Homo sapiens: one gene and its partner. The protein of the gene in region 2 purifies or fractionates together with the protein of the main gene of each other region. This does not show direct contact. Each region holds a gene or a part of one and is shown on either strand. Other genes may lie near its edges. The genes, in order: ZZEF1 and WFDC10A.

Evidence for each region.
Region 1: the proteins of WFDC10A (region 2) and ZZEF1 purify together in Homo sapiens (affinity purification with mass spectrometry; 2 studies listed by BioGRID and IntAct, with this or other methods). This does not show direct contact.

The regions. Positions count from the first base shown.
Region 1 is NC_000017.11:4,073,115-4,077,030, forward strand, and holds part of ZZEF1 (zinc finger ZZ-type and EF-hand domain-containing protein 1), read right to left. Parts: intron 3,876-3,916; coding exon 3,754-3,875; intron 3,646-3,753; coding exon 3,523-3,645; intron 2,316-3,522; coding exon 2,149-2,315; intron 2,065-2,148; coding exon 1,983-2,064; intron 1,238-1,982; coding exon 1,036-1,237; intron 1-1,035. UniProt on the Homo sapiens protein: Histone H3 reader which may act as a transcriptional coactivator for KLF6 and KLF9 transcription factors.
Region 2 is NC_000020.11:45,627,738-45,631,653, reverse strand, and holds WFDC10A (WAP four-disulfide core domain protein 10A precursor), read right to left. Parts: upstream 1,916-3,916; 5' UTR 1,841-1,915; coding exon 1,750-1,840; intron 785-1,749; coding exon 636-784; 3' UTR 458-635; downstream 1-457.

The DNA of each region.
Region 1 (3,916 bases), on a different chromosome or scaffold from region 2:
TCTGTAGCAAATAATAAATATCCAGCATAGATGTGTTTAGAATAGGCAAAGAGAAAAGAATAGGTGGAAATAAAAATGCTAATAGCTATTTCTTTCTTTCTTGGAGAAATATTAAAAAAATCAGTTACTTCTGAGTGTTAGGATTAAGGATGATTCTATTTTCCTTTGTTTTTTTCCACTATGTAATTTTTCTATATTTTACTTCTAAAACTGGAAAAACTCAAGAAATGATCAAGAAATAAAATACAGTAGAAAGTTTTATTCTGTAATTCTTGTTCCCTGGAAGAATTAAATAAACAATTATACTGAACACATCTTTTTCCTTTTGTTTTAAGAGACAAGAGTCTCTCTCTGTTACCCAGACTGGAGTGCAGCAGTATGATCACAGCTCACTGCATGCAGCCTCTAACTCCTGGGCTCAAGTGATCCTCCTGCCTCAGCCTCCCAAGTAGCTGAGACAAAAGGCATATGCCACCACACCTGGCTAATTTTTACATTTTTTTTGGTAAAGATAGGGATCTCACTATGCTGCCCAGGCTGGTTTCAAACTCCTGGGATCAAGAAATCCTCCCACCTTGGCCTCCTAAAGTGCTGGGATTACCAGCATGAGCCACCTTGCTCAGCCCTGAATGAATCACTTTAAAACAAAATCCATAGTCACATATCTACATATATTTACATAAATATTCACATATTTAAAGGATATGCAATCAACTTATTCTATACTCCTGCCTTTTGGTTGGACTATACCTACACCTACTTGCAAAAAAATGACAATGTTGCCAAAAAAAAAAGCTGTTATCCTCCATAGACAGAGAACCCATGGCAGCCTTCCTGCTATGTTCCAAAGTCTAAGGCAAAAAGCTTCGTGACAATGGTATTGAGTGGACACTTTATTCTTTCGGTTTAAAGGAAACTGAAAAGGCGTATTATTAACCCCCTGCCATTACGTGGAAACGACCTACAAGAGGGCAAGCGCGCATCTTGCACTTCACCGTGGTTGTAAGAAGGGAAAGCACAGGGATGTGCACTTACGGCGCACAGACTTGAGCGCCATGCACTGGGAAGCCAGGCGTCCCATCAGCCGGGAGACGAGGAGCTGTAAATCCAGCCCCCAAGACACGGCAACATCGGGCAGCCCACAGGCAGTGACAGTGAATTTGTAGCCCCATTCGTTGTGACTGCTGTCAGAGTGAAAGAGGAACTGCAACCGAGGACCGGCCTTGAAGGTCACTTTCTAGAGACAAACAGAAATCATGTGGTCAGACAGATTAGAGGAGGAGTGCTTCAGAAATCAGCATGCTCTTCATGACGAGAAACATCTCAGTTTAAAATTGATCTCTATTTCCACATGTCCAAAATGACTAACGGAGAAATGTACAAAGGGGTGACGGAAACAGACCATTCACAGCCACACCCCATGAAGAAGGAGAGTTGGCAGAATACTGCTGCTCAGCTTTCTACACCTGGGGTGACCATCTGTCCACTACCGACTCAGCCAGTGGTCACATTTCCATGCCTCTGCTCCTGCCAAGACCACTGACCATGGAGAGAAGGTCAACAGTCTGAGGCAGTACTAAACCTCCAGCCCAAGAGCTCAAGCAGCTCTAACTGTGAGGCAGACTCTTGGCTTCCATCACATGGTCTGGGCCATCCTCCTAGACCCACCAGCACTTCTTGCTAAGGATGAAGGCTCTTCATTTACTCTAGACAACGCTGTCTGCTGCAACTACTCAACTCTGCCACTGCAGTGCCAAAGCAGCTATAAATGATAAACAGGCATGGCTGTGTTCCAAAAAAATTTGTTTACAAAACAGGTGACAGACTATAGCTGGTCAAACTCTGATATAAATCCTTCCTTTCACAAACGTGTAACATAAATGCCTCCCTTCAAAGACCTTACCTCTACTGCCCCCTGAAGGCTGACAAAAGGAAAAGCATTGGTGCAGAAGTAGGTACCTCTTTCTGGGACTATCACTCACCTTGGGCCATTTATCAGTGCCAACTTTTGTGTCATAGCGTGTTTTCCGACCTCTAGCGTCGGTAAATTCCAGATAATCATACCTGTGAAGGCATAACCTCTATTAGCTTCCTTCTCTCATTGCTGACCTATTAGCGCTTGGGGGTGAAAGAATATAGAAGTCTTACCTTTTTTCAGTTTCACACCTGTCATCGAATTCCACTTCAAAATAGGTTGCCCCTGGGCTAACAAAGACGGATACCTCATGGCAATTATTTTCATAGTTGTGGGCAGATTCCTTCGTCCACGTATGTAACACCACAGGCTGTTCCTGTTGCCAGGTCTCAACATCCAGCTATGATAACAAATGAGCCAGGGGAAAGAAAGGTTCTATCACTAGACACCTAGCCACATGCAGCAGACTGTTTCTCTATCAGTGCTCCAGGCAGATGGCCTTGACAGCCCTGCACAAACCAGCAGGCAGGCTCGAAGACAAACCTGACATTCCCATCTTCACACAGATCAACACACGTCCACCACGCAGCCGAGGAGATGTGCTTTTATTACACACAAAAACTCCATGACCAGCTTGTACCTTTTCGCTATGACAGAACTACTTACAAATCATTACCAGTGTGAATTCCCAGTGGAAAAAGTACTGAATGAGGAGTTTAAAGACCTCACATTCCTACCTGGGACACTGGCAAATCTGGATCTACTCTCCCTTCCTCTCCTACCCTTTTCTTTTGAGCGGGGGGTTGGGGGGGGGCCTTTGGTTTTTTACCTGTTAAATATAAATGCCTTTTCTACTGCCACAGAGTTGTGCTCTGTGGCACACAAAAGACACACAAGAAGAAGCTCACACAAGACAGTGATTAAACGTTATGTATGTATAATTAAGTAAGGGAGAAATTTCTTCTAAAGACAAAATGTAATTTGCCTTTCAACATACATTTTCTCTTCTAGACTTCAATTTTGTCACTCACTTACATGGTTTTTATATAACTTCATCAACTATAAAATGATGAGATTCATCTCTACAGCTTTTTCTGCGTCTCCTTTCTTTTTTTTTTTTGAGACGGAGTCTCGCTCTGTGGCCCAGGCGGGAGTGCAGTGGCGCAATCTCGGCTCACTGCAAGCTCCGCCTCCCGGGTTCACGCCATTCTCCTGCCTCAGCCTCCCGAGTAGCTGGGACTACAGGCGCCCACCATCACGCCCGGCTAATTTTTTTTGTATTTTTAGTAGAGACGGGGTTTCACCGTGTTAGCCAGGATGGTCTCGATCTCCTGACCTCGTGATCCGCCCGCCTCGGCCTCCCAAAGTGCTGGGATTACAAGCGTGAGCCACTGCGCCCGGCCTCTGCGTCTCCTTTCTAATGCTGACCAGGCCACATCGACTTGGACTGACATTCACCCTTGTTGGCAAGCCCACTGATAAAATCAAGGGAGCCTTCTAGAGGCTGCTCAGCTGTGCCTATCTGCAGTCCGTGGTCCACTTCACTAAGTGTGTCCCATCACTCCTGAGAGAGAACACGGGGCGGCTCAAGTGCTGACTCGAGTTACCTTCCTCAGTCCTCCTTCGGGGCCACTACAGAGCTTCTTCAGGAGTTCTGTGAGGACGCTGAACTCTCTCAAGAGCACGCAGTGTGGGATGTCTAAAGTGCAGAAGTCCAGCAGGAAGATAACCTAATGGAAGATGGATGAAGCACTCAGCGTCCACCTTAGGCTGGGCCTGGGGATGCAGACCCCCAACCCCCTTCCGGTTCTTTACAAATAGCTGCTAGTTTTTCTTACCAGTTGACGAGCTGCCATTGAAAACACTGAGTTACATAATCTTTCTACTATGGTTTTTCCACTGTACTGTGAGAAAAGGGATTCCAAAATCGCTCTCATGCTTGCCAGAAACTGGCCCACATCTACCGAAACAAAGAAAATAATTAATATATTATATAGTAGA
Region 2 (3,916 bases):
GGCTTGCTGGACTTCCTGGGACTCATTATCCTAATGATAGACAGTAATCTGAACCTTACAGAGAGATTGGGGAGCATAGGATGGCGGTGCACCAAGGCTAAGGAGACCAAAGCAGTGCTTGGGGGCCTCCCACTCTTTATCTCGGGTTCTAACTGCCACCCATCTCATGCTTAATGGGTCCTTCTGACTCCAGGGTGAGAAATGTTCTCCTTAGCATCAGGAGATGCTGCACATGAGCAGTTCCTCCCCCTGGGAGTACTGGTTCAGTGAGCAAAACAGCAAGGGGCTGGGCATCCTGAGGGCTGGCAGGGATACGTGGGCCAAAGAGGGAGAGGGAGGGTAGAGAAGCATAGCCAGGGAGAGAAATTGAACACCAGGACGCAAGACAAGTGGGGCATCTGTAGGGGCCACAGTGAGCTCTCAATGATCATCTGTAGTGGCAGCAAAAGAGGTAGGATCCCTGGGCATTTGTTCTGGTTTATTTGACAGGGACAAGGGGTTCAGACAGTAGAGAGGGCGGCATTCCTGTTGATGTTCTTATGCTGGTGACTTGAGGTCCTTGTGCTTCGGATGTGGGCACAGTCTTGGATAGAGGAGTTGGGAAGCAGGATGCACATCCCAGCCCACTCTCCCACTCACAGGATGCTCATGCAAACATTCCCACAGTAGGTAGAACAGCATATGTTATTTGCTTGACAATCTCGGTGAGATTCACATAAGTGTTTGCATAGATATAGTTTAGGCTGCTGCTGGCAGACTTTGATTTCTGGGGATAGCTGTGTTTCTGACAAGGAGAATAGAACGGTAAATAAACGCAGTTTCCTAGAGAACATTTTTCTCAAGCTGAAGCCTCCTCCAAGACCCTTGAACCCAGGTCTCAGTCATGATACTCCTGGATTCCTTCTTCATAGAACTACCTTCCTGCCCATCACCAAATCCTAGTGATTGGTCATATTTTAAATCCTGTCTCTCCACTGTACACCTTACCCCATTAGACCACAATGCCTGGGCTTCCTGGACCTTCTCCACACACCAGCAATCAGAACTCCATCTCCCTTACTAGTCATGGCCTTGGTGAAGTCACCACCAAAGAATCTACAGTCTGATCCTGAGAGCTCAAAGAAGCATGAGACATCTTTCAAACTCTCTCCTAGTCTCTGAATAGTAGAATTCAGAGATGAGGATCAACATGCCTCTTGTCTCTCCCTCTCTTCTGCTCACTGTCACTGTCTCTAGTCTTCCTGCCCCTTCTTTAGTTCCCTTTCCACCACCACTCTCCTTGCCCCTTTGATGATAACCTTAACTTGGCTCTGTGTACCCCAACTTTTGCTTGTCTTATGTCCTATTTCCCTACACTTATACCCATTCTACACCTACACCTACCGTCATAACCACTTCTGAATCTTTACTCCTCACAAATGTGCATAAATCAAATAATAATTGTCTTGCTTTCCCCACTGGATTCTCAGCCCTGGTGCGCCTTTCACTATGGGATGTGCCATTTCTCTCTAAGTATTGAGAAGGAACAGCAAAATATGCAGGTTTCTTCTTCATTCCCATTACTATTCCCAGGGCCAGCTAAGGGGCTGGAGGGCCATGGTTTAGGGACAGTCCAGAGTCTACACAACATTGTGGTCAGAGCTGGATATGCAGAGAGTTTCCAACTCCTAGGTCCTACTCAGACTGGACACAGGCCCTCCATTCCCCCTACCCAATTCCCCCTCACCCATCCAGCAGCCCATCACCTACTCTGCATCCTCTTCTTGTCACGGTATCCTCCCTGGGCCTGCAGCAGCAGCACACAGAGAACCAGGACAGGCAGCAGAGTCTGGGGTGCCATGACTCTGATCAGATCGTGAGCCCTATGTCTGGCCAGGTTGTCACAGACTTCCCTGCAGAGCTGTCTACGGAGAGTGAAGGAAGGAAAGAAGGAATGATCTTTAGCTCCTCACTGCCTCTACTGGCCAAGTCGGAGCAGAGCAAGAGAGTCCTTCCTCTTTTTGCTTGCCCCTGGCCTTGTCGTTCGTCATGTGGGATAGGGCTTCCGCAGGAATGACGCCTCCTCCTTTCACATAACCAGTCTTGTGTTCTTGCCGATAGAATGAAAGATATCATTTATTTCTGCTTTCTAATTACAAAATGTTTTATGGAAAAAAGAAAAGAAAAAATATATTGTTAAAAAGAGTTGCTTAGAATTAACTGATGTTTCATTGCATTATCTTTTAGTTTCTCTCCATATTTAATATAAACAATCCTTTTAATATAAACAACTTTTGTTATCTATTTTTGCCACCCTTATTTAATCATGTAAGTATTTCTCAAAATGTGGATTTTCATAATTGCACAGCTCTCAAATGCTAATAATCAAGTATTTGTATTGTACTAATTACTAATAATCTAGAGAATGTCATATTATTTTTATTTATAAATCTTTGATTTCTTTAGACTAAGAGAGCTAGAATTCCTGAGTGAAAGAGTAAGTAGCTGTTTCATATATAAATGTATATAAACACATACACAGATATACATATACAAATTTAAACACACATAAACACACAGAAAGAGAGACTATTGTAGGGCATGGGACAGAAGGGCTAGTGGAGAAACATAGTAAATATCTTAGAGCTCAGACAGGGGGAGAGACCTATCAGTCAAAGGCTTGGCAGGCTGTCCAGGAGGAGGTGGTCACTGACCTTGAATATCATGAAGGAAATGAACTCTCAGAAGTGAAGATGTTTCTTCTTCCCTAACAGGAGAAAGAGGGGACAACCTAGGGTCACTGGACTCCCAGTAGGCATGCAAGCTGGGAAGAAGATCACCCTCTTCCTCTGATGATGATAATCTTCTAAAGATTTGAACCTCTTTCTGACATTCTGAACTCCTAATGCAGACTCCTTCAGTCCACAGTTGTAATTTACATTCAAAGGAAGCTCTCTAGCCTTTCCCCCATATCTCACCTTATGCACCTTCCTCTGTATCCTTTGCGATATCCTTTATAATTCAAAAATTCTGATATTTGTACCTATAGTTTACAGAGTGGTATTTGACCCTTCCCAAAGGCTCTCTCTTTCCTAGTTTTTCTTTTTGTCCACTCATAAATGAACAATTTAGAGACTGGACACTGTCATAACTATCCTAGCAAAGAGGGGTTATATAGAGGAGAATCATCATCTCAAATAGAAGCTGCATTTTCCTTACCCAAGCATCTTGCAGCCAGTGCCACAATGTAAATATTTTGGCTAACAGACTTGTCACTACTAGGTCAAGACCCTAAGAAGATGGCAAGTCTCTTTCACACTCTTTTTCTTTTCCACCAGCTCAGTATAGATGACAACAAGGTTCTAGAGCCTAGTGAAGCCAAAAGGTGAAAGGAGCCTGGGTCCTTGACTTCTTTTATCACATGAAAAAAGGATACCCATTGTTTTAGAATACTCATTTTGAATTATTATTTGAGCAAGAAATAAAAAGTATATTGTATTTCAGTTATTATGTGATGGAGGCTTTCTGTTAAAGCAGTCTAGTCAACATTGTGGCAGGCTCAAGTACTGACATTTATAAGGGGAAAGATTTATGGGTATATAGAAGGTCTATACTTTATACATTCAAATTATTGATAGAGTAGTAAATTTAGTAAAGAGATGGGTAATTTGAACATTATGATTAATAAGCTTGACTTAATTAAAATATACAGAAGTCTGCATAGAAAAACTAGAGGAACACATTTTTCTCAAGCACAAATAAAACATGTACAAAAAGTGACTATACATTAGGCTATAAAAAAAGTCTGAACAAAATTTTAAAGAATTACATCACAAAGGACATAGTTTCAGACTATAATGGAAATAATTAGAAATTAGTCTAAAAAAAGACAATTACTCAAAACTGAACAGAAATTTCAAATTAAAATATATAAGTC